Linked DNA regions of Homo sapiens: region 1 is linked to region 2. The links come from fine-mapping of genetic effects on gene expression. A gene starts in region 2. The other region holds a variant in brackets. All regions are shown on one strand. Distances are between the middles of the regions.

Region 1 (16,346 bases), 54 kb before region 2:
TTTTAAAAGTTTCTTTAAAATTAACATTTTGTCTATGGGATTTCTGAACTTTCTTTACTTTTAGGATAAAGACAGATGACTCAATAGTTTAAACGAAAAGTGTTTCCTTCAACCCTCTTTTAATATGGACTAAAATCTGGTTCTCTTCTTCAAGTTGTAGTCTTGGGAATGTTATATCTGATCTCTCCTTTTTTAATACCATGTTTCACATGACATTTTAAAAATTACTGTATAAGTTAGCTATTGTGAGAAACAGTTTTATTCAGTTTGAAGCATTCAATAAAATAAAAAATGTATAGAAGAAAGAAAACTCCATATATGCAGAGTAGCTATAGAATTTTGTTTCCTTTCTAAAGGTTTTTATCTGCCATAGATCCTTACATTTCAACTTCTCACAGTTCTCATCTAATGTTTTACGTTTGGATTTCACATACACCAACTTAGTTTCAGTATCACTCTTCTTAGTGTTAAAGGACACTCCTATAAAACACAGATGATTAAGGGAGGGGAGTACACTATTTGCCAAGGGGCAAAAAATACCTCATAGAGGAATAGATAGCAATTGTTGCTTTCTTCTTCTAGAAAATGTGTAGATACTTCGTATAGTGTGAACAATCTTCTCCTACAAAATATTTAGATAATACAGTGTGAAAAATCTTGGTTTGTTTGTGTGGAGATGATAGATAAATTTTGCCACCCAAAGATGCTTTAAATCTCAACATTGTGGTCATAGAGGGATATTTAAAGCCTTTTCATGATGACTTTTACAGATCAAGTCTTTCATCTATATTATTTGCAAATTTCTTTCATATAGCATATCCACAGTAAAATTTGACATAATTTTTATTAGCCTAACAGTATGATTTATCTTCACTATTACAGTATTAACTGTGTCTGTTAAAATTCATTTTCTATTCCTCCTGAAAATACAATAAATGAGTATGCTTTACTTGCCTGTCACCATTGTAGTCAGATAAAGCTACATGACTACACTTGTCAAATGAGATGTGGACTGAAGTGGTGTATACAACTTTGAGACTTGGACCATAAACACCTTCACCTTCACCATTTGCCAGCTGAATGTTGAATCAGGCTGCAGAAGATTTATTGATCAATGTATGGCTCCCAAAGCCTCTCATCCATGAATAAAGATATAGAGCAGAGAAGTCCTCATTCCACTCACCGCCTATGAAGTTCAGTTGTCTGTAAAAAATATACAGCTATTTTCATAAATCACTGAGATTTTAGAGATTTTGCTTTATCATATTTTATTACATTAAATAATTCAAAACTCTATAACAATATACCTAACAGTATTGATACCTTGCTCTTTTCCATGGCCATAGTTAACTCTCTTTTAATTGCTGTTGAGGGCACTTGCCAACATGGACTCAAAAGACAGCATGGGTAAGAATTTATGCATAGAGCAATATAACAGATGAGAAAGAATATCCACCTATCTGTTCAACAAATATTTATTGAACATTTCCTTCATGATAAACACTATATCTACTGGACAAATAAAGATGAATTGCACATGTGCTGGCATGTATTTTAGCCATGATCATGTGGTTCTTGAGCCAGAAGCCTTAGTGTTAGTTTGCTGACTCAGTTAGGCAGTTCTACGATATAGTAGCAGCAGCTCTCTTAGCTGCTTATTTCTGTAACATTTTTGGGAATCATCTATTAGAATATATTTTGTTAGACCTCCTGATGATTCTTCACATCATTTCATAATACTATGTGCTAAATTATTTTCCACTTGAACAAGATTCAGTAGCTTCCATTCTCTGAAACGCAGGCCTGGGCCCCAAGTATTCATCTTTCCAAGAATATATTTACAGATGTCTCAGTCTTTGGGCTTCAGTTTGATAACATTTTGTTTAATGTTAAATGTTATTTTAGCGTTTCTCTTGGTAAATAGTGTGAATGCACACCAAAATTCCAAAACAGGAACTGAAACTTGTTCAATGATAAGGTGAAAATTCAGATAATTCAGAATAGGTTCATATTGTTTATTAATAAAAAGAAATAAAATAAAAAATAAGTATAATGATGTAAGAACCTACTGACACCCATGGTGCTACTGATCCAATATTGAAAACTGCTGGTGAGATACATATAGGTATATAGGGCTTGGCAAAATAAAAGAAAAATCAATCAATTGTTAAGTAATTTTAATAATAATATTGTTATTCTTAAATATCAAATGAGATAATAACATAGAAGTACTTTGTAAAGAGATAAAGTGCCATACTCGTTACTGGTAGTATCTTCTACATAAATGCCTTACATTTTTTAGTGCCATTTAAAGACGATGATCCAATGTCATATTATTGTAACTGAAGGACAATGCACTGTATGTTTTATCTACTAAAGGTGTAGATGGAAATTAGATAAAGGACCCTTCACTCTACAGATGAGATTTGAATTAAGTAGCATTATTGTAAACAAAAGAGGAGTTCAATAATTGAATGTCCACAGTGACTGTGTAGGTCAAGATAGAGGCCTGCCTGTGGAACACTTTAAATTACTGCTTCTCGTGTTCTACTTTACTTTGGGAAACTTGAGCTGCCATTATAACACCTTTCACCAGACTGAACGTGTAATTGAAAGTAAATCAATCTTGAGGTGATTGAAATTATTATTGCCTGACTTCTTTTACTCTGTCATTCCACAGGAAGCCAGTTGGCAGTGGATAGAGAATTAACTGACATTTCTCCTTTCATTTTATTACATCACAAACTTCCACAAAAATTAATTATAGCACATTTTTTCTGTGACTTATTAGAAATTGTAATATATATTTTCTATATTTATTTTATCTATATTTTCCCCACCTTATATGCCCTCTCAATTCAATTACTAAAATCTCCTTTGCCTTCCAGAACTTTTCAAAAACATTTGTAAAAATGTTTGACATACTATTGATATATATGTATATATAAAATGTTGTTAGCGTATATGTATTTTTATACAAATAGCATAGATTTATATAGTTTTCAATAAGTACATGACCCAACTTGCATGGATTAAATTATTAACTAGTTAACTATATTTTACTTTATTAGAATTTACTAATTCCACTTTTGTTGTTGTTGTCGTTGTTGAAACGGAGTTTTGCTCTTGCTGCCCAGGCTGGAGGGCAATGGTGCGGTCTCGGCTCACCACAACCTCCACCTCCCGCGTTCAAGTGATTCTCCTGCTTCAGCCTCCCGAGTAGCTGGGATTACAGACGCCTGCCACCACGCCCAGCTAATTTTGTATTTTTACTAGAGATGGGGTTTCTCTATGTTGGTCAGGCTGGTTGCGAACTCTCAACCTCATGTGATCGGCCTGCCTCAGCCTCCCAACGTGTTGGGATTACAGGCATGAGCCACCGTGCCCGGCCTACTAATTCCACTTTTATCCTTCATAGCATGTGCATATTCATTCATAGAGCTTAATTTTTGCCCCCCACGGACTTCTTTAAGCTCTTTTTGCTTTTCGAAAACAATAAAGAGAAAAAAGCTAGTGAGTAGCTTTTACTAACAGTAGCTGTTTTTGTCCCTCCTTTATGTTCATTCCTTTACATCCAAGCCATTGATATGTTCTTGTCATTTGCCTCATTGTCTCTTGGACTGCATCTTTTCTCATAATTCCCTCTGCCCCAGGTATCATCCTCATGACTTCACGACTGCACCAGGGCATTAGCTGCCCTGCCAATTTCTGGACACAATTCCCCCTTCTCCTCACTACCTCCACATACTTCCTCCACCTACATTCTGCTTCTAAACAATGATTTTTACCATGCTACTTTCTTGTTCAAGCATCCGTGCTCATTCCCACCATCTTTTGTAAATTTTACCAATATAAAAATTGTTCATCTTATGAAAAAGAGTTCAGTGACTTAAGTGAACGAATGTGAAGAAGTTTCTCTGCCACAGAATAGCATAGTAACAATCATACGCTAATACTGTAAATTGCCATGAGAGCGTATATTAGCTAGCAGTCCCCCAGTACAATGTATTATTATTTTGAAAGGGAATGGAGTTAGTATCTAACTCCAGACTAACAGAACTCCATTCTGTTAGTTAATATCTAACAGAATACCAGTGTTTTACAAAATGCCATGAAAGTAATGCTAATCTAAGGAAATCATTTTGAAAAAGCCTTTTGTTAAAGTCTGGCTCTCAAACAGCTCACTCATTTTCAAAAATCTCTTCAACAGTTGTGATGAGCCACAGTCTAGTTGGTGTTACAATGTGGTCTGCATAAGGCTGGTTCATTTCCACTTCTGTGACTTTTTTTGCAGGCTGTGTTTCCAGCAAACAACACCTCTTTATTCCTCTTGACATGTCCAGAACCACTGTGATTTATGTAAAGATTTCCCTCCCACAAAAAGTCATTTTAAATTGTCTTGATTATAAGCCATTATGCATTAATTTTAAAGCCATAGTAGGTAGACAAAATTTTCACTGTCCTAAGAATTATATCTTTTTTTTTTTTTTTTTTTTGAAACAGAGTTTCAGTCTTGTTGCCCAGGTTGGATTGCAATGGCGTGATCTCAGCCCACGGCGACCTCCACCTCCTGGTTCAAGCGATTCTCCTGTATCAGCCTCCTGAGTAGATGGGATTACAGGCATGCACCACCACACCTGGCTAATTTTGTATTTTTAGTAGAGACAGGGTTTCTTCATGTTCGTCAGGCTGGTCTTGAACTCCCGATCTCAGATGATCCGCCTGCCTTGGCCTCCCAAAGTGCTGGGATTACAGGAGTGAGCCACTGCACCCAGCCTATATCTTCTTATATATAAATCAATCATCTGTTTTTGATTGCAATGTATTCTTCTTTTTGGGGTGTGACATTCCTAATTTAATTAATTCTTAGTATTTGTTTATATTTATGTCTCTAGAATGAGTTATGTGATATAACTTTTTATGTGTTTTTTTTCTTATATTTTGTTTGTATCTACCTACATAAAATATCCATCAGGCTCCTATATTGAATAAGCATGTTGTCAATATCCCTGGATAAACTTCAGTGGACAGTGGCAACGTGGTCAGTCAACAGCTGACGGTAACATTGTGGCAACAGGGACTCCGTACTTTCATATCAATGAACAGTATTTCTGGCGACTTATGCATGATTCCAGAAGACAGCTTCCAATAGAGATAGAGAGGAGTACCAAGTGGTTTTCATGGGAGAATTTATTTGTACATTTTTATAAACAGCTTCTTGGAGATATATCATAGACATATAAAAATTATATATACTTAGGACAACTTAATGTTTTGATAGACACACACATTGTGAGATGATCACCACAATCCAGGTAATATATCAGCTCTACATAGTCATCGTGTGTGTGTGTGTGTGTGTGTGTGTGGTCAGATGATTTAAGATCCATTCTTTTAACGAATATCAAGTATACAATACATTATTCTTAATTATCATCACTATTTATCTGTAATGTTTTATGAGCAAAAAGACAATATATGTATTTACAGCGTGTATAATATAAATTATGTAATATTTAAGTAGTAAGGAATTATTTAAAAATGAAATATATTAAAATGTTAACCTTTGTTAATTCTGAATAACAGAAATATGAAGGACTATCACATCCTTTTGCAAATGTCTATACATTCACCTTTCTTTTTTTTTTTTTTTTTTTTTTTTTTGAGACAGAGTCTCGCTCTGTCGCCCAGGCTGGAGTGCAGTGGCGCGATCTCGGCTTACTGCAAGCTCCTCCTCCCAGGTTCACGCCATTCTCCTGCCTCAGCCTCCCAAGTAACTGGGACTACAGGCGCCCGCCACCACACCAGCTAATATTTTTTATTTTTTTGGTAGAGACAGGGTTTCACCATGTTAGCCAGGATGGTCTCCATCTCCTGACCTCGTGATCCACCTGCCTCGGCATCCCAAAGTGTTGGGATTACAGGCATGAACCATCGCGCCCAGCCTACATTCATATTTCTTAATAAAGATGGAGAGAGCCATGGCCATTCTACATAATTAAAAAGATTTTCTGTGAGTTCAATAACAATTTAAACCTTGATTTTTTAAATTTGAATCATATGGATTATCTTATTTCAATTTTTGAATTAGCTTTCTGATTATAACTGCTCTGACTTACTGACCTAAGTATACTGCCTTGCATGAAAGTTGTAGTTTTAATTTAAAAAAATACTTCAGCATTTTGTTATATACCTTGGTCCCTGTGAACTCATGAGTTATGTGTTTTTTTCTGTGAACTTGTTGGCGATATGAGTCTACTCCAGACAGAGAGATCCATAGTTAATGAACTTAAAATAGTTTCAGTTTTCTGAGGCTGCAAGGTTGAGAGTGAGATCCTAAACCAATGGTCAAAGGACAACCTGCAGCAGAATCACCTGGGTAAAGGCTATGCATTTAGGTCTGTAAATGGGGGTCATTGTGCATGAATATGTGGCATCTGTCCCCCACATTCTCACACACATGTGGAGGAACATTGTCCTTAAACCATTGAGTATATGCTACCTTCTAAGATTTCTTGTTCTGTGAGCATCAGGCTTTTCCTGGTAGTACTCCAATCTTAGTAAACTTTTTTCCTTCCAACAATAAAACCCCAGGACAAATTAATACAAAATTCCCTATATAGTATATCATCAAATATTAAGAACATAAAACTCTTCTATGAAGATCATCATTCTACAATTAAAAATCACAATTTTATTGGAAATACTTCATTTCTTATTATTACACTTTTGGAATAATGATTTATTTATGCTTAAGCAAATCTGAACTTCATGATTCAATCCAAATCATTTCTATGGAAAATGTATCCCTTATTAAGTGAATAACTTCACAAAAATTATACAGAGGCCTAGTTAATTTTCTATGATATTAAACAGACAATGAAAGTAATGTAAGGATTAAAACCTATATGCCTTTGTCTTAATGTCTTGGACTTTATCCAAATATTCTTTCAAATTTGACTCTTCCTTGAAAATGCATATGCATAGAATAAAATAGCAAATTTCTTTAAATATTTTTATGGGGATATTATTCAAGGCATATTCTGTAAAGAGTGAGTGGACTCTCTGTACTCTGAAAGATGATATTTAAGATTCCATTATTTCATTTTTGACTAACATGTGATAAAACCAATTAGCATTGTTCTATTTTCTAAGTGTCTTCTTGCCTACATGCTGAGTTAGAAGGGCAAGAAAGAAAAAAGCTATGATGGAAAGTGTACTCAGAAATATTCTGCTACTGTGCCTACATATATAGTCCTTTCTTAGCTGAAGAGTATACCTTACATAATTTTAAGTGGAGTAGAAATTTAGCAAGTCTGTTGCTATTAAAATAATAAATGAGATAGTTTAAATCAATAGGAGAATGTCGATCATGGATTTTTGGCTTTAAAGATCTCTTTGTAGAGATATAAAGTAGCATGATTATTATATTTATTTAAAATGCATTCATTTTGGTTAAAAACCATCTTAATTCAATGCTCGCACTCACTCTGAGTGCTGTATCATGATTTTCCCATTATAGATAATTGAATAACACTGACTTATGACTTAAGCCCTTAAAGAAAAGTATTGTCAGTCTTAAAGTTAAGTTAGAATTTTCAAATATATTATATAACTTAATAAAATATTACCCTTTGTGGTGAAATCTATATATTTCTCTGTGGTTTAAGGTCAATATTTAGAAGACTCTTTTACTCAATAATATTGATGTTTATCATTGTTTGAAGGAGACTAAAGTAAGAGTTGCAAGTCTGTCTTCTATATTTGTAGTTTGTGAAGAAACATGGAAGGTAAGTACCAATGAGACTGAAATATCTGTGCAAATTGAAGGAGATCATAATTTAAATGCCATGTATCACTCATCTTCAGTAAGAACACAGATAGATGAATGGATAGACAGAGACACTACATATACTCTACAAATACATGTATTCATGATCATTACTTACATATGGATATGCTTTTCTTGGTACCTGCAAACAAGATGAATGCATTTTCATTTTTGTTGTTTCCTTTTTGTTCGTCTTCTATCCCATTTTCTCAGGAGCAGAAGAATAATTTAAACTGAATTCTCAGGCTCCAACACATCATCCTGATTGGTCGATAAAAGGCTCCTCTCCTATTTTATTCCACCCCTGTCTCTGATCTTTAGCCACTTTCCTCTTTCCCTTTCCAAAGATACCATCCACAATGCATTTGATATGTTTTCCAGAATACATCAAGTGACTAAAATTTATTTTCATTGTTAAAGTCCAATTTTATTAAGAAGTTAGAGGTGTGAATAACTATGTCTAAACAAATGATTTGTTGATCATTTTGATGAAACTAACCAGTAGCTATCATCCAATTCAACATTTACCAAGGCCTTACTCAAAGAAATGCAGAAGCCACAATGTACTACTTTAGGCACTTTTCAGAAATTTTCTCATTTCATTTTCACTATAATTATAATTCA[C/T]TTTGATTATTCACATGTTAGAGATGAGAAAACTGAAGCTCAAGATTATTAAATAACCCTTTATAATTAAATAAAGCAAAAGACAATAGTGCTGAATAAATTCATGATAAATTCTTTTCAAATGAATAAAATAATGTTTGCATGGAAAAATAAATAAATTTGACACATCAGTCCTTAAGAAGCTTATATTTAACATCTGGGGAAATATCTACCACCTGAGAAAAGAAGAACAATTGTGAAAGAACAATTGTGAACAATTGGGAAATTCAAGTCTGACTAATAGCAAAGGTCAAGAGTACTATTTAGATGATTAGGGATGTATTGAATTCCCTAGGGTGAGATCATCTTGAACTGGAGTTTTCAGGTTGCAAACATACAGGCATTTATAAATTTGTGAATGAAGGCTTCGAGGCTAGGTTGGAAGCACACAGACAATATTAGAGAAAAGTAATGCTGTTTGCTTGTTTGCTTTCTGCCATGTTCAATATGCACAAAGCGAATACTGCTGTTTGAAGCTCACTTGTTCCTAAGTCAATAAAACGGATGGCAGGAGAGTAAGCAAAACCTTTATGACTCACAGTGCTAATTTCATAATCAATAGCAATAGCAACAGCTTCAGTGACTGGCATTGACTATTAAGATGCGCAAAATGAACCATGGAGGCCGCTTTCTATACAGATATGTTATTTTCTCTCCCTCACATAACCATGGTCTAACCAAGTGACTTCACTCAACTATTTGTCTGGCTGAACTTAACCTTTACTAACCATCCAATTATTAAAGTTGTATAAAAGGATTTGTAAGAAAAATCTGTGCGCCAGGCTCTTGTACAGATAAAAATTAATCCATTTAAAGACCTCCGAACAGGTTTCCTGCATAATTTCTGTACATTACTATGTTTGTATAAAACTTTTTATAAAAAAAGAACGGTAATATTGGTTTTGCTGCATGTAGAGTTGAGTGAATTTATTTGTATAAATTGATAATTTATATAATATTGGAATATGAAATGAATAAACTGTATGCATATAAATATATAATTATTTATATATTAACCTTCACATACATGTTTCAAACCTTGTGGACATAACTTTATGTCATTCCTCTCACCTATATTTTAATTATTATCAATGGTTCCATAACTTTTGTAAACTGAAATAAGCCTTTTCTAAAGATGTTAAATAACATACCAGTTTAGAAATGGGATCTGGCATCAGAAAAAATGGGGCCCGAATTCCAACTATGTTATGTACTAGCTTTGTTGGAATATGTTATACTGTTTAATTTTTAACATATAAAAAAACAAAAAAAGTAACAGTAAGAAGTTCATATTTTGGGGAGGAGGTTAAAAGAGATAATACATGTAAAAAAACGCATTATCACTTACCACAGTATTTTATATAAAAAAACTCAAAGACGACACCTACTAAAACTGTCTTTATATTATTCCATATATGTAGACTCTAGCTCATTCACAACCAATAACCAAATGACAATTTACAAGAAATGTTTGAAATTGAAAAAAACTATTTGGAAAATGCAGATCTCACAATTTGCATCGGAAATACAATGATATTGAAGTACAGACAAAAAAAAAATCAATTGCCCATTTCAATTTACTGTCTGAGACATGGCCTAACTTAGTTAAAATGCATTCAGACAGACAGACGAAATATGCACATTCATAGAAAAGTTATCATCTTGGTTTTGTATTATTCATTCTCCCTCATTTGTTCTCTAGCACTTGATGTGCCTTTAATGCATTTTTAGCTGTGCATTTCATTAATTGAAATTTCAATTAATCTAAAGTTATCCAAAAAGATAGGAAGCTGCCAAATTTGTTTTTTTTTCTTTGAAAACTACATTGTGCAGTAATATTCATAGCTACACCCACTCTCCAGCAATTTTGAGTTGTGTGGAATGAGTCATACAGACATATGCATGTATATTTTTATCTGGCTAGAAAATGTCATGCCCATCGAATTTTCAGTCTTCCAAATACATGCATTTCTGGGCCCGAGTTATCTTTCTCACATGCATGGAATGCAAGATAGGAAATGCTATACTGTAATGTATGTAAGTCAGTTTTTAAACCACCCAGTCGAACTTATTTGAAAAACACTGTTTTAATAAAACCTACCATTATGCTTATAATTTGTTAAATATTATTTTTATAAAATGTAAAATTAAAAAATAATGGCTCATTACTTAGAACGCAAAATACAAAACTGCCTATTAATTGAGAATTTTTGGTATCTGTGTTTAATTTTATAAACCATGTAAAATAATAACAAATGTATTCAAAAATAGATATCTTATGTTTGGATTTTCTAAGACAGTTAAGTGAAGAAATAATCAGATATATAGTTATGGTTGTTGTTGTTTGTTTGTTTGTTTGTTTTTTGAGATGGAATCCTGCTCTGTTGCCCAGGGTGGAGTGCAGTGGCACCAGCTCACTTCAACCTTCGCCTCCCGGGTTCAAGTGATTCTCCTGCCTCAGCCTCCAGAGCAACTGAAACCACTGGTGTGCACCACCATGCCTGACTAATTTTTGTGTTTTTAGTAGAGACAGGGTTTCACCTTGTTGACCAGGCTGGTCTCAAACTCTTGACCTCAGGAGATCCGCTTGCCTCAGGCTCCCAAAAGTGCTGAGATGACAGGCGTGAGCCACTGTGCCCAGCCAATATTTTCGAGTAATACATTTTTAAAGTTAAAAATTCCATATTGGTTAATGAAATCACTGTCAATTTTACAGTATCATATTGTAGAGTACACAACAGATTGGTTTGACTATTATATTTAGTCAAAACAACTACTTACAGGTCAGCGTTGATTACTTTCATTTTTTGAAAATAACTATATATGATTAGCTTTCATTAAAGTTCATGTGACATTTCCCCAATCTTGATACTTCTTAAAATCTGAGAAAAGCATATACTTTAGTTGAAGAATGGCTCATAGTTCACATTAACCCTTGAGTTATTTGAAGCAAACAAACATCACTGAACTTGCTATAAGTTCTAATTGTTATAAACATGCTGATGTAAATCCCCCTTAACAAACAAATATAGCTTATTTTTTCAGACAGAATAACATCAAAACATAGTGAAAATAGTGTCTGTGCACCCACAAGCACATACTCTGTCCCCACCATCCCTTACCTTTACCCCTATGCTCTAGGCTAAAAGTCAAACTTTGTTGTGTGAGACTCAAGTTCTTTTGCAGTCTGGCCACAACCACCTTCCCTGTCTGGTTCCTTCTACTCTGTAGGCATGACTCACCAAAACTCGTTCAAACACTCAACACTTCCCAGCTTTTGCACATGCATAGTCCTTTGAAGCAAAGCAAAATTGTTAATTTGGCTGAAGATATGGTTGTATGGCTGGAAATGTGGAAAGATAAGGCTGGAAAGATAAATTGCATCCAAAGTATAAAAGTTTTGACCCTTCGGCCACAAAATTTGTGTTGCTTTTATTAATCAATGCAAATATATTGATGATATTTTAATAAGGAGGTGACTTAGAGCTGTGCTGTAAGAATATCAGCTAGGCAGCAGTATACGAGAAAGCTTAGATAGAATAAAAACCTGATAAAATACTGAATGAGGAGAATGAATTTCAATAGAAAGAAGGTGAAAGAGTACATGACAGTGGTAAGAGTATAAATTCATACTTCAGCTCCCCTGCATACCAGATGCATGGATTTGGACAAATTATTCACTTGCTCTAAGCCTTTCCTCATGTATAGAATGAAGATCATAAAGGTACTACCTATATATTTGTATGGGAATGAAGGTTTAATGAAAATAAAAACCTACAAAGTATTTATTTAACACAGCACCTTGCTCATAGTAAGTGTCAAGGAATATTGTCTATTTCATTATTATTATTATATCAAATGGATTTGACATCATATTGGCTCTGATTGTCAAGACAGATAAAGTAATTTTAAAATATTCTAAGATATCTAATCAGTATACTGAAGCGATATATGCACTCCTATGTTAGTTGCAGCACCATTCACAATAACCAAGTTTAGAAGCAGCCTAAGTATCCATCAACAGATGAATGGATAAAGAAAATATGTTACATATACACAGTGGCATACTATTCAGCCATAAAAAAGAATGACATCCTGTAATTTGCAACAACATGGATGGAAATGGAGGTCATTATGTTAAGTGAAATAAGCCAAGCACGGAAAGACAAACTTCACTTGGTCTCACTTGTTTGTGGGAGCTAAAAATTAATACAACTGAACTCATGGAGTTAGAAGGCTGGGAAGGGTACATTGGAGAGATGGCTAATGGGTACAAAAAATAATGAAATAGAATGAACAAGGTTTAGTATTTGATAGCATAACAGGGTGACTACACTCAACAATAATTTATTATACATTTAAAAATAACAAAAAGAGTCCAGCTGGGTTGTTTGTAACACAACGAAAGGATAAATGCTTGAGGTGACAGACACTCCATTTACCCTGATGTGATTATTACATATGATATACCTTATCAGAATATGTCATGTATCCCATAAATATATATGCCTACTGTGTACACACAAAAAATGAAGATTAAAACAATTTCTAAGATTTCTAGCTTTAGTTCCTGGAATAAGAATGATCTCAACAGAATCATTTATGAGACTACAGGGGGAAAAGGAGCTGGAGGAGGGAAGATAATAAATAAGCGATTTTTTTCCTTTACAGCTTTTATTTGAGGGGTTGGTGGAATGTCCTGGTAGAACACATCTGGTAGGCAGTTAGAACTGTGCTCAGTAGTGAGCCTCCTGCTCACCATGATGTAAATAGACTATGACAAAATCTGATCAAGTAATTGTGTTTTGATTATTATTCAGTAGATAGTTTTCATTAAAATGACCATTATGGTCATATGGGAATTTATGTTTATCTTTAACAAAATCTAATCAAAGAGATAAACTATTTTACAACCAAGTCTTGTAGTTTCACAGATTCTGAGTCATTTCCTATATTTATATAATCATATTGTATGTTTATTTGAAAGAGGAATTCAGACATAATTTTGTTTATTTTCATCTGTAGAAAAATGTTTCAATTACCTCAGAACACTAAAGATGACTCAGGGAATCTCCCCATAATCAATCCAAGGAATTTTCCCAATGTTGATGACTCCAAAATTGAACTGTGTTGTTTGGTTCTAGCTGGGTTCTCAACGAAACTAACATTATTCCTATTTTGGTGATTTGCCAGCACAGTCACTGTAACATTTATTCTCAAAGTTCCCTACTTTTCTCAGACTCTCTATTCCATTATTTTGCCTGTCCATTTCAAATTGCCACATTTCCTATTTCATATGAAAATTAAGTGTGATTTCTCAATCTGGCCTATTTTATGTAGGAAGATCGGTGTGATCTCTCTCATCTAACCCAATATTTACCTTGCTTTAAGATAACTTTATGATTTTTTTCTGCTCATTTATAAGGTGCATGTTTTGAAAATATGCCCTTCCCAAACTGAACTCCTTCAAGATCGGGCTTTCCAGTTATGTCTTCATTTTATCATCTTCAATCTCATTGCCCCTGCCCTTAAACACATCTGGTATATGGTTTCTGAAACATTGTACAGTGAAAATGTATCATATAAATTAAAAACAATAAAATTATTTCCTCCAAAATTAAAATTGAAAGGATAACTTGATAGAGAAACAAAACAAACAAAAGTTATTCACATTAGCCTTCATCCCTACCCCTAGAAAAAAGTGTTTCTTCTTCCTCTTAACATCTCTTAACATCTTTAGTTTTTTTAAGTTTTTGTTTTTTGCTTCATAAGATGCTTGTCCTATGATGCTTTGTGTTAATTTAATTTTACATTCTTTGTCTTGCTACATAACAAGCACCCTGAAATCTGATTTCATTTTTCATACATTCTTGTATAGGCATTGTTTGTAATATAAGGGTTGGATGAAAGGTGCTTGAAGCTTGTATGTGTTAAGATTTCTAGTTTTCCCCTTCCTGTGTCCATGTGATCTCATTGTTCAATTCCCACCTATGAGTGAGAATATGCGGTGTTTGGTTTTTTGTTCTTGCGATAGTTTACTGAGAATGATGATTTCCAATTTCATCCATGTCCCTACAAAGGACATGAACTCATCATTTTTTATGGCTGCATAGTATTCCAGGGACTGTTGTGGGGTGGGGGGAGGGGGGAGGGATAGCAGTGGGAGATATACCTAATGCTAGATGACGACTTAGTGGGTGCAGCACACCAGCATGGCACATGTATACGTATGTAACTAACCTGCACAATGTGCACATGTACCCTAAAACTTAAAGTATAATAATAAAAAAAAAAATAAAATAAATAAAAAAATAAAAAATAAAACTGTTTTAGGACAAAACAAAACAAAACAAAACAAAAGATTTCTAGTTTTAAAAGAAAACGTAACAATGAAGGCTATACACGCCACAATAGCTGAGATTTTTGTGGTAACAAAGAACACAGCAATTCCCATCATCATATCTTTAGGCATGCTAGAGAAAGAAAGATAAATAACTCTTTATTCTTCTTTGAGTCCTGTCATCTGATCATGTATGCCTTCTGATTTAATCATTCCATAAATACATTAAGACAGGGCTGGGAATTTGCCTTTCCTCCCTATCACCATAATAGATTGAATTTTTACCATTAAAAATAATTAATTTTTGGCTGGGTGTGGTGGCTCATGCCTGTAATCCCAGCGCTTGGGGAGGCTGACGTGGGTGGATCACCTGAGGTCAAAAGTTCGAGACCAGCCTGGCCAACATGGTGAAACCCCATCTCTACTAAAAATACAAAAATTAACTGGGTGTGATGGCATGTGCCTGTAGTCCTAGCTCCTCGGGAGGCTGAGGCAGGAGAATTGTTTGAACCAGGGAGGCAGAGGTTGAATTGAGCCAAGATCACACCACTGCACTGCAGCCTGGGCAACAGAGTGAGACTCTGTCCCAAAAAAAAAAAAAAAAAAAAGAATAAATAAATAAATAAATAAATAAATAAATAAATAAAATAATAATAATAATTTCTTTTGGAGGGGAAGAGGAAATGGAGGAATTTCCGTTCAGTGGGTATGGAGTTTCAGTCATGAACGATGGAAAAGCTCTAGAGATCAGCTATACAAAACTGCGTTTACAGTTATTATTATGCTATACGTTTACAATTTTGTTAAGATGGTAGATAACTTATATGTTTTTAATACAATACAAATAATTTTTAAAAACATGTAGGTCTTTCAATTTTCACAATTTAGTTATGAAACACAAATGACCCTAATATGTAGTGCATTCTATCTTCAGCAAATTATGCTAGTGTTCAAAATGCGGTCCAAAGAATGGTGTTCATCTGTGAACTACTTGTTATGGATCTGTGATAAGTACAAAAGTTGAGAGTAAGTGCTTAGACATTTTTACAGTAATTTGACATTGTCATATTTCCAAATTTTATTCGGTAACAGTGTCACTCTGCAATAGATTAGAGGTAAGAAGAAAAAAGAAGTGGTCTTTCCTCACAGATAATTTGAGAAGCACCACCTTACAGTATTTCTCACTGGGGACTTGTTCCCAAGCTCCTGTAATGCTAAAACTTGTGTATATAATTTGATTTTTAAAGGATTTTTAGTACAAGAAAATGGAAATAATCACTTTCTATAATGGAGAACAACTTTGTGGATTTCAATGCCCCAGAAGATAGCATAAGTTGGAAACCTAAATAGATATAAAAGATGTAAATCATTTTAAAGTTGGTGGAGCATTATGCTGTAAACAAGGTTTTAATGAAGAATGGCTCAAGATTATTGTCTACCTTTAGAGAAAATATGGGGGTCATGGACTTCCTTGAGAAACTGGTGAGAAATATTGATTCTTCCTTAGGAAAA
Region 2 (15,768 bases):
TCTTCTTTATCCATCAGACTTTAGTCCTATATTATAGCTAAATAATAATAGATCATTCTATTTTAGGCAGAGATACTAAGGCAAGATTTGATGGATGTCAGTTCCTGAACACTGGCAATAACCTACTTGAAGTTTTATCCTTTGAAGCTAATAGCCCACTGGCCTCTATCATTACCACCTACATTGAATGGCTCATGCTTGCAATCCCATCACTTTGGGAGGCTGAGTGGGTGGATTACGAGGTCAGGAGTTCAAGACCAGCCTGGCCAAGATGGTGAAATCCTGTCTTTACTAAAAATACAAAAATTATCCAGGCGTGGTGGCAGGTGCCTATAATCTCAGCTACTCGGGAGGCTGAGGCAGACAATTGCTTGAACCTGGGAGGCGCAGTTTTCAGTGAGCCAAGATTGCAACATTGCACTCCAGTCTGGGAGACAGAGCAAGACTTGGTCTCAAAAAAAAAAAACAAAAAACAAAAAAAAACTTCCTTATTGTGAACCAAATACATCATTTCCTTTTGTTCCTTTTGCTGGCCTACCTTGATTGAATTTCTCTCCCACTTTTTTACCAACACAAAATGTGTCCTCGTCTCATTTCTCATAAGTGTAGAGAGGCAGTGACGTTATCTTCAGCTCCTAGTTCCCCATAGGCTCTTTATGACAATAGCAACAGTCCAAATAATTGGACTATAGATTTAATTTTAGGCATAGGAAATGTTATCTTTGAAAGTAACATTATACATCACATTTTGAGCTTGTTATACATTTATTTGTTCTTTAATTTTTTTCAACAATGATTTATTGCATGCTTACAAGGAATCAGGCAATGCACCAATTCAAGGATATACAATGTTAAATAAAAATAAGCAGGACACCTGAACTCATGGAATATATAGCACTGTTGGTTAACAGATGTTAATAAAATAATCACACACAACAATTAAAAAACTGAGACAAGATATCTTTTAAAAAAAAAGCACATTTAACAAGGGAACATAACAGAGACTGGTGGTGGGGTTACTATGTCAGGGAAGGCTTAAGGAAGTGCTTCCTAATTTCTTCTAAGAGGAATGAATAGATGCAAATCAGGTAAAGGAGGTAGGAGGCTTCCATCAGAGGAAACATGTGCTATGATGCCCCATGGCAGGAAAAGAAATGCCATTAGGGAGCCTGGCATATTTCAAGTACTGAAAGAAGGCTGGTGTTCTTGGAGCAAGGAAAATAATGATTCCACACCAGATAGGAGCCAAGGCATACAAGACATCAACCATGTAAGGAATCTAGTCTTGAACTTAGGAGAAATGGAAAGTATTTGAAGAATTTTAAGTTATGCAGTGACACGATCAGCTCTGTATTGCGACAAGATCACACAGCCTACTGCATTGAGGCCAGGCTAGAGAGGGTCAAAATGGAGAAGGTGAGAACAGGTGAGCTACTATAAACGACCTTTAAGAACTTTTTGGCACAGTCTTTCATTCATTTGTTAATTTACTCATGTTTATTCACTTGTCTATTGTACTTTCTATTAATGTTTATTGAGCACTTACTATCTGGAAAGCACTGTGAGGAATATAAGGAGAGAGAAATAGTTTCTGTTCCCTCAAGGGCTTATTAAAGACAAGTACATTTTTCTTTTCACAATTTGAATGCTAAATTGTCTCAATGGTTTGATGTTGATTGACTAGCTAAAAGCAGTTTAAACCCATAAATTTTTGCTCCAGTGAATTGTGCAATGACAACGAAATAGTTCATATTAAAACCTGTAACTAACTGGCCTTTTCTACCTTGTCAAAAATCTCTGAAAAAGGCCTCAAAGTTCTCATTGTATTTTTAGGTCAGAGCCGATTTCTTTTGTTTTTCTTTATGTAGTGAAAACATGGAGATATCTTCCTACATGCATTTCTACTCAGAAGCAGTTTTTTTTTTTTAATCGTCTCTCTTTCACTTTAACATCTAACAGTTGCTGTCACATCAGTCCTCTTTTCCTTATCCCTTCTTTTTAAATCATTTTCTATCCCATTTCTAATACCTGTCAGATGATTTGATAATCAGAGTTCCTGTTGGAACTCAATGAATATCATCCACCTACCCAATGTCTGTGCCACTATAAGGAAGAATGAAACGGAAATTTAGAAGAAATGTTTTTCAAGAACAATCTCAGACTTTTTCTCAACCCCTCTGGGTGTTTAGGTGGAGGAGAAATAAAGATAAAAACAGTTAAGAAATGGGAAAAAAACATAAATACAACCAAAGACCCATGAAATAATTTGGTTTAGGCTTAGGCAAGCAAGTATTTATGGGCTGTGATTTTTGGATCTTTTAAAAAATCTTCTTTGCCAGAAAAGATTTTATATACCACTTCATCAATCAATATTTGGTATTAAAACAAGACAAAAAAACTTTGCTTTTCTCCTCATATTTCAGCTGTAAGGAGAGATCAAGTTATTCTGTAGTAGATACTACTCCAAATTTTAGAGGCTTAAAGCAGCAAATATGTATTTCTCGTCCATGCTATAAGTTCAGTGCCAGTCAGTTAAGAGTTCCGAACTTTGTCATCCTCATTCAAGGACCCACTGAGCAACCAGCACTATTTGGAGCATCACTGGTCATACCCAGGTAACAGAGAAGGAGTAAACATGGTGAATCAGACACTTATTCGTCCAGTTTCCATCTGGAAATGGCCTAAGTCTGTTTAGCTTCCCTATCATTGGTCAGAGCAATTTTCATTAGCAACTCTAATTTCAAGGAAAGTGAGAAAATTTGATCTGTTCTTACATCTATGCTGGAAACTGGCAATATTTGCTGGAGAGCAATAATGCTGGAGAGCACCATCATTAGCCTCTATAAAAATGTCTCCCTCCCCACCAAAATATTTTGGAATAGTTTGTTATCTTAATTGTTTGTTATCCTATTTTAAGGATAATTTGTTAACTCTTAATTCATAATGCAGAAAATTTTCATGTTTCTCTTTTCCAACTGAATACATGCTGGATACCCAGAAATCACAGAAAAAGGAAGAGCAACTTTTAACCATATTTCACTCTAGGGCATGGGTAGGAGGGGCAGCTGGACGCCTTCACGTTGACAAATGAATTTAGCTCTCTAGGTGTTACAGATTTGGGCTTCATTTAAACATGTGACTTTTTAAAAAAAATTCAGGCAGATCAAGCCAATTTAAAAAATAAAGCCCCTCTTGACTTTTCAATTCAATTAATATAATGGATCAATACCATGCATTTGAGTGGATTTAATAGTATTGCTTATACAGAGGCCTTTACCCAGAAACACAGGCAGGGATGCCCATCCATGTGCAGCATAAGCACTCACATTCCCATCTGCTTAAATAGACACTGTCTTCTTATCTGTATGCACTCTTATAAACACACATTTTCCCATATGCCAAAAGACAAGTGCATACACAAATGCAGATGTATGCTATGTAGGAATGCTAATGAGAAAGAGGGAGGAAAAGGGGACATTAGAGAACTAACGAAAGATGGAAACAGGCCGAGCTGGAATAAAAAGGAGGGCATAGGATACTAAAAGGAGGACAGGAGAAAAAAAAAGACCAGAAAAAAAATGAGGGAATGAGGGAAACAATGTATTCATGAGAAAAAATAATCTAATGCAAAGTAAGAGAATGTAGGTATATGTGCTGGGCTCTGACAGGTCATTCTGTGAATGTGGGAGCTTGAATGTGGGTGGGAAAGAGTGGATGGGAACATATTCACACTCATGGGAAAAGGTAAGAGCCAAAAGAATCAACAAACTCAAGTGCTGTGCATGCAACTAAATCTCATCAACTGAATGTGGAGGCAGTGATCTAACAGCTTTCAAATACTTCAGTAACACCAGCAAACACTGTGTAGTGTTGTCTATGATCCATGTGTTGTTCTGTGCACATATATCAACTCATAAAATACTTGTGATGACCAAAAATAGTAGGTTCTACAAATACTTTTATTCTTCAGGTAAGAAAACTAAGACAAGGTAAGGCTAAGGAATTTGTCAAAGGTTGTATAGTGAATAAGCAGCAGGATTCGGATTTAGAACCAGAGTCTGAGCTCTTAACCTCAACTCTCTGTAACATCTCATTCCTCTGAAGGAAGGATTATGATTCCCATATACATATTGTTTTAGTTCATTTTGCATTGCTATAAATAAATACATGAACCTGGATAATTTATAAGAAAATAAGTTTATTTGGCCTATGGTTCTTCTGGCACTGTACAGGACCAGCATCTACCTCTGGTGAGGGCTTCAGGCTGCTTCCACTCATGGCAGAAGGCATTGGAAAGAAGGCATCACATGGAAAGATGAAGAAAGAAAGAGAGAGAGAAGGCAGTGCCAAGCTCTTGTAACAATCAGATCTCAAGGGAGCTAATAGAAGAAGAACTCATTCATTACTGGGGGAGGGCACAAAGACCTTCATGAAGGACCTGCCCCCATAACCCAAATACCTCCCACTAAACCCCACTTCCAATACGGAGGATCAAATTTTAACATGAGATTTAAAGGGGACAAATATCCAAACTATATCACATATGAAGGTACAGATGCTCATGTCCTCAAGAATTTCCTGAAAGATGATATATGCTTGATTCTGCCTATGCATGTAGAAGGTAAAGATAGCTTAGATGAGTCTCCTTCTGCCTTTAAATAGCTCACTGTTCAATAGGGTGAGTGCTATGATCTGAATGTTGTGTTCTCCCAAAATTCGCGTGTTGAAATCCCAATCCCTGTGGCATTAGGAGGTGAGGCCTTTTGGGAGATACTTAGGTCCTGAGAGCAGAGTCCTAATTAATGAGATTGGTGTTCTTATAGAAGAGACTCCAGAGAGCTACCTCCCCCTTTCTACTATGTGAAGACATGGCAAGGGGCACCATCTATGACACTGAATCTTGCAGTGCCTGGATCTTGGAGTTCTTGACTTTCAGAACTGTACAAAGTAAAATTATGTTGTTTAAAAGCTACGCATTTTATGGTATTTTGTTATAGCAGCCCCAAATGACTAAGACAGTGTGATAGAAAAGTTAATAAATAAGTTCAGTTGAATATTCTAGGTTTAATGTTAAATGCCTGTGCTAAGTTCAACAGGAGTAAAAAGTAAGGCATGATAATTTTATCTGGAAGAAGAAGTAGTTTACATGGCTGAAACTTGGAGTGTTCATCAGGTAGATAGGGTGAACGTGGCATTCCAGTAGGGGAAGACAGTGAGAAACAAAAGCATAGAGACATGAAACCACTGGCTCTTGAGAGAAATGCAAAAAGTTATGTTTGCAGGAAGCATAGAGGAAAGAATGATGCTTGAAAAATGAATGCTGGCTATGGATGTGTGTGCATGTGTGTGTATGTGCATGCATGTGTGTGCATGTGTGTAACAAGGAGTGTGCAGAGAAAGCAGAGTTGAGACTGGAGGTATAAGCTATAATTTGAAGTCAGATGTGATATGCAAAAGAGTTTGCACCTTATACTGTTCTCAAGAAAACATTTTAGATGGCTGAGTGACACTATCAAAATTAGTTTTAGAAACATTTTTGTTGTTTCAATGGAAGATAGATTGGAGAAAACGAAGATCAGAGGCAGAGAAACTAATTAGTAGGCCACTATTTATTAGTATTGCAGTATTCCAAGTGAGGATAGAGATAAGGCTATGGAATTGGTAATGAATAGAATGGTTCAGATGATGGATAGATAGGAGGTACTTTCTCAGCGATAGTAATTGTGTGTGTGTGTGTGTGTGTGTGTGTGTGTGTGTGTGTGTATGTGTATGGTACTGGTGGGTGGTTGAGAAAGAGTCTAGAATGAATATCTCCCAGTGTTCAGGATTTCCATAGGGGAAAGGTGAAAAGGTAGAGGAAAAAAGGTATCTAAGCACTGATAGTCAGTGATGGACAGAGATAGAGCTCTAAGAGGTAACAGAATATGTCATAGCTAAGACTGCCCAAGGTCAGGCTCTGGAACCAAGGCTCCCAATTTGTATTCCAAAGTGCTTAACTTTACGAAGATCAGCAATTATTTATTGAGCATCTATGAGCAAGCCACTCTCTCAAATACAAAAAGTCTCTACCAAAGAGAAATGATCTATATTTAAAATCATTTGATATCCATAATTAATTTGCCATAGCATTATTCACTTTTTCTTAGAAATAATTGGTTTCTATTTTCTCTTTCATGTCGCACTGATTGACCATAAAATGCCCATAGCCTGATTATATTTTTCGTTTATTTCTTCACTATATATACCCTCTGTTCCTCTTAAGATGCAAGTGTTTTGATGCTATAAATAATGATATTGGAATAATCCTTCAGTTGGACCAATCTTATCCCACCTGAGGTGTTTATAAATGGGTTCAAATTAGGTCCTGGACTCGCTATGTTTTCTGATTTTGTTGTTATTGTTGTTGCCTTTGTCTGAATAATTGCGCATGATAAGGTGTTATTACAAATAGTATAGTAGTTACGGAAACTCTGGAGCCATGTTGCCAGGGCTCTACTCCTTTTGCCAGCACTGTGAGACCTTGAGTCGGCTTAATATTTCTGTGTCTAAACCTTCTTATCAGTGAAATGGAAATAATAATAACTTCTTACTTTTGAAGATTAAATGAGTTAATACAAAACACTGAGAATGGAATCTAAGCTGTTATACCAATGAAGACATTACAGGTTTCCTTTTATTCTTGTCATTACTATGAATATCATTTAAAGGACATGTCTCACAGGTAAAGCTGCTGATCATGTAGCCGCTTATACTTCATTAACAAGCATAGTTTTCAGTGAGGAAATTTTTGGTTTGAATTACCAGAGTTTTATCTTTGTTTTAGAAAGGAATTGATTAACCTAAAAATAAATTATACCTATAATTTCAAGAAAGGAAGGTAAAATAATTTTCTTACAAATAATTCTTATGTGTGTCTTGTTGTAAATTGTTTTAAAAATCTCAGAAACCACCAGGATATCCTGAATGCTTGATATATTCAATTTGCAAGTTGGATGAGAATTTGTAAAATTACTTGGTAAACAGAAAGTTACTAATTCTATTTGAAGAAGGTAATGTGCATAGTTTATCCAAGCTAATACACATGATATATTTAGCTCTAATGAAATGTGACCTAGATCCGTGAATGTAAGAGAGTAGTTTCGGAATTATTTGTTTGTGAAACTAGTTACTTCCACTTTACAGCTGTTTCTTCTCTCAGAACCTTGGGGCCTAACCCTCCATCTAAATGCAACATATGGGAAAAATAGAGCTTGACCAAGTCCTGGTTTTGAATTGATAATTGTCAGCTAAGAATTTGCACCGGTTTTGTCTCATTTTGTCTTTCAGTAATGTGGTGAATATGTGAGAACTGACATATACTCCAGGTCCACTTTGAAATTAGTTAACTAGTTCAATGGGAAAAAGTAGAAGATAATATTAAATTGTTTGAAAACAGAATAATCTGTGCTTCCGTTCCTAATTTTTCATAAATTTGTATTCTCATTCAAATGAATGAATCACATAGGAATGTATGTAGTTAAAGTATACACAAATTTATTATATGAAATATGTGCTGAGAGTTTAAAAAGTTAAATATAGTGAGATGCTATTCTTGTTGAAGTAATTATGATATTGCTCTTTAAAGCATGTAAAGATCATCATGATCCAATTCATGTAGTAGTAAGATTAAATGTATTTTGTAGAATTGTGGTATTTAAATGCTATTCTTATTAAAATATTCTTGTCTATTTTTATTAGTTCTGATATATATTTATCTACAGATATATTAGCATATTTGTATATATGTATGTATGCATATAAGTGTACAATAAATATAGGTGTATTATATATATACATATGTAATATATATACTTCTATACACATATCACTCTATAGAAAGCTTAAAGATTAATGAAGTCCCCTAGGGCATATAAAGTAGTAGCTCTCTATAGCAGTAATGCTAGGCTGAGCTCTAAAAATGGAAGCTGTACAAAATATCTGTTCAAGAACATGAACAGTTTTTATAACAAATCTTAAAATTGTACAATATTGTGAGATGTCAGCTAATAAGAAATCAGACAAAACCAAGATCTCCCAATTCTTCAGCTTTCTTTTATTCATGGTCTTTATGTGGAAATTTCCTTAAGGATTTCAGCGTTGGGGTTGGGGAATATGTAAGAAGTGACCACCTCCACCCACCAACCTAATTTGTTGATCAGTAATTCAAAGAGGTTTGAAACAGAAGGTTTTGTGCTGCCCAAGCCTGGATGGGAATGGATTTACTGGCAACCAATTAGTTGTCAATTCTTCCTCAGGATTGGTTGCCTTAGGACATGCTCTGAAAGGAGTGGGTAGGAAGAGCTTAGTCACGACCCACACAGGCTGGCTCAGATCTCAGGCAGTTAACCTGCACTCTATCACAAAGAGCAGAGAAGAAAATCTGGCTGAGTTTGTCAGCTGTTTGAGGAAGCTGGATAATCCTCCAAATTTCCAGAGAAATTTGTCTGGGCTAGTAATACAACAAAATAGCAGTATAGATATGGCTAAACACCAGAAATCTGCTGCCCACAATCAGCTTTTCTAGTTCCATTTCCTTTAATGTGCTTTGAAGTTTAAGTTACAGCTATCCAACATTTAAAATTGTAAAACATTTTGTGAGAACTAAAAATCAAGGTTTTATAATGAAAACTTTTAAATTTAGTTTTTACTGTGGGTCATTCTCCAGTAAATGCATCTCTAAATCGGTGGGATGTAGTAACATACACTTACAGAAAAAAAACCAAAATGGTGAAAAACATTCAAAGCAGCTTGAACTTTGTGAAGTGTCATATAAGAGGGTCATATGTCATTGAAATTACATATTTAATAAGGGTGCTAATGGGAAAAGCTAATTCCTCAGAACAAACAATTCCAATTGATATAAATGTTGAACGAAAAAAATTAAAACATTTATAATTTGATATTAGAATCCAGGAGAAGACCTTATAAGTATTAGAATAATATATGAATATATTTACAAAAATTGTGACATTCATTAAAGAAAAATTTTGTTGGAGCATAGCAATTAAGGCTGGGAAGAAACCATACACTGCTTAACTTCCATTATCAAAATATCAACAATTTATTAGTAATATAAATGGAGAGGTGATAGAGATTTTAATGAAGATTGACTCACAGAAATGGAAAATAGGAAAATACAGTAGCAAGTGAACTGTTCATGCCAAGTATAAGATACTTAGGTTCTCTGGTTGCAAGGTTTTAAATGGCATGCTTTTTATCTTTGTGAATTTCAATTAGACTCTGCAATGGGCAAGTCAGGAAAAGAATATTAATGATGGAGGAGAGAGCTGGGTGGTGTTCCATTCTTCACAGAGCAAGCTAAATAAGAGAGCAAATGTTTGTTTAGGTTGTAACATATTAAATGCTCATCCAGAAAATGGTGATTAATAGATTAAAAAGGACAGCTGGAAATATTTACAATGTAAAGGTTTTACTCTCCTCCCATAATCTTCAAAGCAAAGCTAAAATTTACTGTAGATTAGCAGTGCCTGTTAGAAAAACTGCACCATCTAGGAAAAACATCTGAATTTTTGGTGCATAACTAACAAAATTGAAGTGTTTGGCACATATTGACTCTGAATGTAAAATGACAGAAACGTATCAGCATACTTATCTCTCTCTCTTTTTTCCTTTAAAGTGTCTAACGTTTATAACAACTTCTGGAGGAGATAAACACTGGCTCTGCTTTGCCTTAGTAAAATGTGCATAACATTCTGTCTTCTGTGCAGTACAAAAAGGAAAATGTCCCCCCCTTTTTTTGTTGTTCAAGTTGCACGTTTGGATTCTATCGCCTCAGATAAAACAGAACAGAAATGAGACAGATCAAACACACAATGCTGAAAGTGTAAGATGGGACTGGAATTCCAAGTCCCTTTGCCAGCAAAAAGCCCTAAAGGGGGAAAACCTCAAACGTTGTTACCTTTCCTCCCACTGGGGAATGAGTTGCAGAGGTAGTAGAAACACAGCAGGTCCGTTTTTGCTCCTGGGTAATGTAAACTTTTTGGAGCTGTTGATTGAGTTTGATCACCTGCTAGGGAGGGCGCCTGTGAAAAGAGGTTGGAAAAGGATTGCTGGAAGTGAGCGGGAGGTTTCCCAAGGTGTGTGTGTAATCTGCAAATGGACTTTACTGACTGGCTCAAGGGAATTCTCCAGCTCTCAGAGCTTTCAGGGGAAATCGGTCTTTATTGCGGGAGTGTGAAGGAATGAATGGTATATCAGGAGGGTTAAGGAATCAAATAAACTTCCTGCTGTCTGATTTCACGCAACATGCTTTGAACTTGGTCCTGCGTGGATGCGTTGATGACTAAGTAAAGGCGTGATTAGTCCCCTTGCCCTCCAGCAGGAGCGGAACCTCTTTACCTCTTAGCAGCCACGTCGCTCCACAGTAGGGTGATGTTGGGGGACGGGCGGCAGGGCGCGGCCCCAGGGATCTAGGGCATCACCGCCACACTACATTCCCGGCTTTACACCAACACCCAACAGCAGCTCTGTCAGGAACCTTGGGGCCTCTCGGGAGCCCCAGCAAGCGGCCTCGGGGAGCAGCCCGAGGCTGCGCGTGGGCTCCGCTCCTCCGGCGAGGTGTGGGCGAGGGGAGCGGCGCTCCGAGCGCACCCAGGCGCCCGACGCCGCCCGGGTCTGCGCCGCTGCTAGTGCCAGGCGGGCGACGGTCAGTTACCAGGGATCGAGGGATCGAGGCAGGGGAGTGTGTGTGTGTGGGGGGGGGGGAGGGGGGGGAGGGGGGGCCCTGCCTTCCCGGGAACCTCCTTAGCCCTCCTACCCGGCCTGACTCCTCCTCCTCCAGGCGCGGGGCTCGTGCCCGCCACCGCCGGCGCGCACCGCGCCTCCGCCCGCGTCCCCCCAATTTCCCCCCCCGGCCCCAGCTCCTGTCATCGTTTTCCCCCTCCTCCTCTTCCTCCTCCTCCTCTTCCTCCTCCTCCGCCCATCACCGCCACTACGAACGCCTTCGCCTCCTTCTACACCTCGCGCCGCCGCCGCGGCTCCTAGCGCTCCTCTCCGGCTTCCACCAGCCCATCGCTCCACGCTCTCTTGGCTGCTGCAGTCTCGGTCTCTCTCTCTCTCTCTCTCTCTCTCTCTCTCTCTCTCTCTCTCTCTCTCTCTCTCTCTCCCAAGTTTCCTATCTCGTCAAGATCAGGGCAAAAGGAAGAAAACACCGAATTCTGCTTGCCGTTTCAGGTAGGGTCGCACACGTTGGTCCCGATAGAGACACTTTCCTGTTTGTCTTTGCCTCGCGTGCATGCCTCATCTCCCCCCACCCCACTTTCAGAGGCTCCCTGGAAACGGAGGAGGCTCAATTCCCGCACCTCCCTCCTCCCCAGCGCACTTAAAAAATAATTTCGATACTTATCACCAGAAGCATATTTGCAACTACAATAAAATCCAGGACACCTGCTCGGCAGCACGTTAGCCTGGCTCTTTTATAGTCTTCAACTTTGCTCACTGTGATTACCGCTGCCTGCCTGGCTGGTGTTTGCTGCCGGAGCCTCACGCGCCTTCTCTTATTGTGATCCTCGGCTCCAGAGCAGCTGTCAAACGCGTCGTTTCGCAGCACTTGATCGGAACCCGGCTGCCTCTAAGACTTGGTCTTGGGCAACCGTGGGTGGGCAGGAAGGGAAATTATTTATTTTATTTTGTTAAGGGGAGTGAAGAAAAGAAGACGTGAGGACCGCAGTTCACTGTAATGTAGAGTAATTGCAAAAGTGGGCTGCCTGCCCCTAGCTTTTCCCGCTGTGGTTGCGGAGGTGGTCTTGGTTGAGGGGGTTGTGGCGTGAAGTACCCATCTCTCCTCTCCTCTCCTTTCCTCCCCTCCCCTCCAACCCATTCCCTTTCCAGCTGCTATGCCAGTTTAAAGTCCAGGGTGTTATTATTACGTGTGCGCAAAACAGTGTTTGCTGACGATGAGGCTGGGGGACGTTCCTGGCAGAGAGAAGTCTGATTACTTGGTCATCTTGCTGTTAAAGAAAGAAAGAAAGAAAAAAAGAAAGAAAGAAACAGAAAGGAAAAGGGTGGGGGTGGGGGTCCATAAAAAAGAAATCGTCTCTCAATCATCAAGTCCTACACAGAGTCCAGGAAGTAATCTCCATAGCTTTAACACGAATCCCTAACTAAAAGGATATTCTTTGGGGTTACTTGGATAGTGAAACTGAAGGCAATTTTAAGTGTATTTTGTTTTTCATTCCATGGCTTTGTAAAGAGCGGCGGTGATGAAGACAAAATTGAACATCTACAACATGCAGTTCCTGCTTTTTGTTTTCTTGGTGTGGGACCCTGCCAGGTGAGATATTTATTGTATTTGACTATTTTAATTCAGGGCAAAGATGTGTTTCTTGTAGGCCATTAATGCTTTTGAAAATCAAGGGTGTTTTAAAGAATTATTTCTCAGAAAAGGGGGTGTATGGGGAAAGTGAACTATGAAGTAATAGACTGTAAAAACTTCACTGCTTCTCGTTCTTAGTGATAAGATCCAAAAGCAAACAGAAACACTTTCCATGCAGAACATTCACAGAAGAAAAGAAAATCCTTTCAATGGCATATTCCTACAAGGAATTGAAGTGATTAATTATAGGCACTTATAATATAACACCAGGATTCGATAAGGAAGCCAAGTTTTCCTTCGAGCTGACAGAAAAGTACCAGCTAAGTGATTTGAGTGTTAACTAATTTTTTTTTTCCTTTTTCTTTTCTTTTTTTAATGGTATGGCTCCTTTAGTCACCATAGAAAACCCAAAAGATGTGTGAGTCTTAAACCTCTAGGTGGAGGTAGTATACAACTTCACAATCACAAACAATGAAACAAAAGCTAGATTTATTAATCATCGACTTTTTGCATTATTAAGATTTTTTTCTCAAATGCTTACAGTCAGGAGTACTGATTTAAAATATGTAATGAATTTTCTTTTGCCTATGCTATAAAAACATGAAATTAATTTTTATTGCTTTCAGTAACTTCATTTTATTTTGTAGACTTTCCTGATTTTCATCATCAGTGGACATCTTTTCTTTAATGCCTTTAGGATATGATTCTCAAAATACCAGAAGACTTAAGATACAAGTTTTATAAGAATGTTCTTGTAACTATTTATTTTTAAAAATCTAATAAGTCTTTATTATACCTTTATTTCTCTTTTAACTTTTTATTTAATTGTCCAAGTAATGGTCAAAGTATGAAAACATTTCTTAGAATTGAGACGCCATCTATCTCATAAAGCCTTGCTTTCATTTGGAAAATATCTACTAATTTAATGACTACATATTGATTTGAGAAAGAAAATATAAAATGTGATTAAGAAACACTTTCAAATGAAAATATGTGGAACTTTATGAACATCTTAGTTATTGGTTTTAAAATTAGCTTAAGTAGGCAATACAGAAACTTTTGAGGCTAGAGGGTATAAAGTGATACACTTATTTAATTTGTAGATGTTTATCTTCATTTGAATACTTTAATATTTTCTCTGCTCTTAAGACAATATTTGTTTGAAGTTGGTTACCAGTTTTTGATGTATTGTGACTATTTATAGCTACTAGGTGTGTAATCATTTAAATGCAAATGGACACTTTTAATAATATTTTATACAATGCACCTTGATCAGAATGTAATTACATATTGTCTTTTATTTTAAAAGAGTGGACAATCCATTATCAATTAATAATCATTGAAAATCTCAGTGTTTAACCATACTTCTCTCAACTAGTTTTCTGTTCTATATTTGACCAGTAATGCTTATGCCAGTATTGTATTCTATTATATAAATGATTCTTTTTTGGGGCCAGCAATTTAAATCTCTGATTCATTCTGAGAAAAAAAAAGACAATGAAAAGGGACATTCTGTTTTATACATTTAGTTGCTTCTGCAACAAATTGCTGCATGTCACAGAATCAGGTGTTTGGCTTTATGATGGAGAAATAATGGAGAAAATCACAATTTCTAAAGCTTTTCTGGTGATATTTTAAGACCATTTGTTCTTTCTACAAAATTGTCACCAAAACAAAGTAACTAGGCATTTTAATCTTTACAATATTGCTCTTCTCAGAGACCAATCAGGAAGAACTAGGCTCTAAGGATCTCTGCAGCTGTGTATGTGTTGCTGATGCTTTCAGAGCCCACCTCCACCTCCTGGCTACATGGAGCCTGGCACATAGCCAGTGGAGTTTCCCTGATGCTTATATTGCACTTGGCCATTGGGTGGAGGTATACCCAAAGTAAGGAAAAAATCCTGATTTAAAAGAGAAAAATACATATGAAAAAGAAAGACACTTATGAGAGAGATAGAAAATATATTTACCTCCAAAAAAGCAATTTATTTTCCAATTAATATTGAAAACGGTTATTTCAGGAGTCTGTTTGATTATTGGAATTTTCTAACTGTAGAATAGCAATACTAATAGTGTTTGCATGTGTTAATCTACAATCATAATATATCCCAGGAGATGGATTTAGAAAGAAAATGAATAGTCCACATAAAATGTTAAAGGGGCAAGAATCTCAAATAATGTTAACATCAAACTTCTGATAATCTACTATTTAGAATCTATTTCAATTTCATGTTTACCTTTTTTGAAGACAAACCGATATTTATAGAAGTTAAAAAAAAAGGAGGAAAACGGGTGGTACTAATAGCTCAGGGAGTGTTAAAATTTAAATTAAGGAAGAAAAGCATGTTGGCATTTGCAAAACACACATATGTATATATATCAGCTTTTAAAATTATCTGTTTAGGTTGGTGCTGGCTAACATCCAAGAAGATGAGGCTAAAAATAACATTACCATCTTTACGAGAATTCTTGACAGACTTCTGGATGGTTACGATAATCGGCTTAGACCAGGACTGGGAGGTAAAAATAGTTTTCCTCTTTTAAAACTCTCGTAAAATAATGCCTTTAAAAGTTAAGGGTAATATTCCTATTTTAATACTTTTATATATGAATGCATCACTGTGTATATAAAATTATAGAAAATAGAAAGTAAGATATATGAAAAAATATTGTCTGTGATTCCTTTTATACATACATAATGTATTTAACATATCTTTCATAGAATGCCTAAAGTCATATGGAGCCCAGACTTTCTGCATGAATAGTTTTTAAATTAACTTTCTCACACTTAGAGTATGTTAAAATCTAGCATTATTGAGCAGATATACATATGAAAGTATATTTCATGTGTAAAGAAAGTATATTTACTTTCTTTGATCATATTTTCATGTCAGCTCAGATACACAGAAATGAGGAACATAAAAAATTTAAGAATATAGTGGTTGTATTTTAACGAATACACTTTTTAGCATTCTATGATGATACTTCTTTACACTTGCATGTGATATTTCTAGAATACAGCACAACTTTGTTATTCTTGAAACTTTCAAAGACATTTCAGATATACGTTAGACATAGGTCTAAAGTTTTGGATTGTGGCACAGTTTGATTTCAAATTTAAACATTTTTTATTCAGAAAAATAAAATAAATATTCAGAAAATTAAAATTTTTAATTCAGAAAAATAAATATATTTTTATTCGAAAAGGGAAAGAAAATTTGGCTTGGCTAATATGTTAAATTTTAATGATCACATTTATCACTTGTTTGTTTCATAATCATTAAGACATTTAGTTTCACAGTTAATTCAAAATTAAGACAAATTAGTTGAACAGTTGATACTAATACAAGATTTATGTAGTTAACCTGGTTATTGCCGGGTTTGGTGACTTTGCA

Direction of the effects. Alleles are on the strand shown, and positions count from the first base shown. SD is a standard deviation of normalised expression in the study named.
For the expression in esophagus muscle of the gene that starts at base 10,839 in region 2, T is the high allele of the variant in region 1 and C is the other (moderate effect, 0.56 SD a copy in GTEx).

What was found.
Region 1: its variant is fine-mapped to the expression of GABRA2 in esophagus muscle (GTEx, PIP 0.98). The same link has a PIP of 0.9 or more in subcutaneous fat.

What each region holds. Positions count from the first base shown.
Region 1 is chr4:46,438,558-46,454,903 of GRCh38, reverse strand. No RefSeq gene overlaps it. Among named protein-coding and RNA genes, the nearest start is that of GABRA2, 57 kb to the right of the region's middle. The variant C/T (reference allele first, on the strand shown) is at 8,456.
Region 2 is chr4:46,385,199-46,400,966 of GRCh38, reverse strand. It overlaps GABRA2 (gamma-aminobutyric acid type A receptor subunit alpha2), which reads left to right and starts at 10,839. Exons shown (of 10, transcript NM_000807.4): 1 at 10,839-11,232; 2 at 12,251-12,331; 3 at 14,778-14,893. The coding sequence starts at 12,261.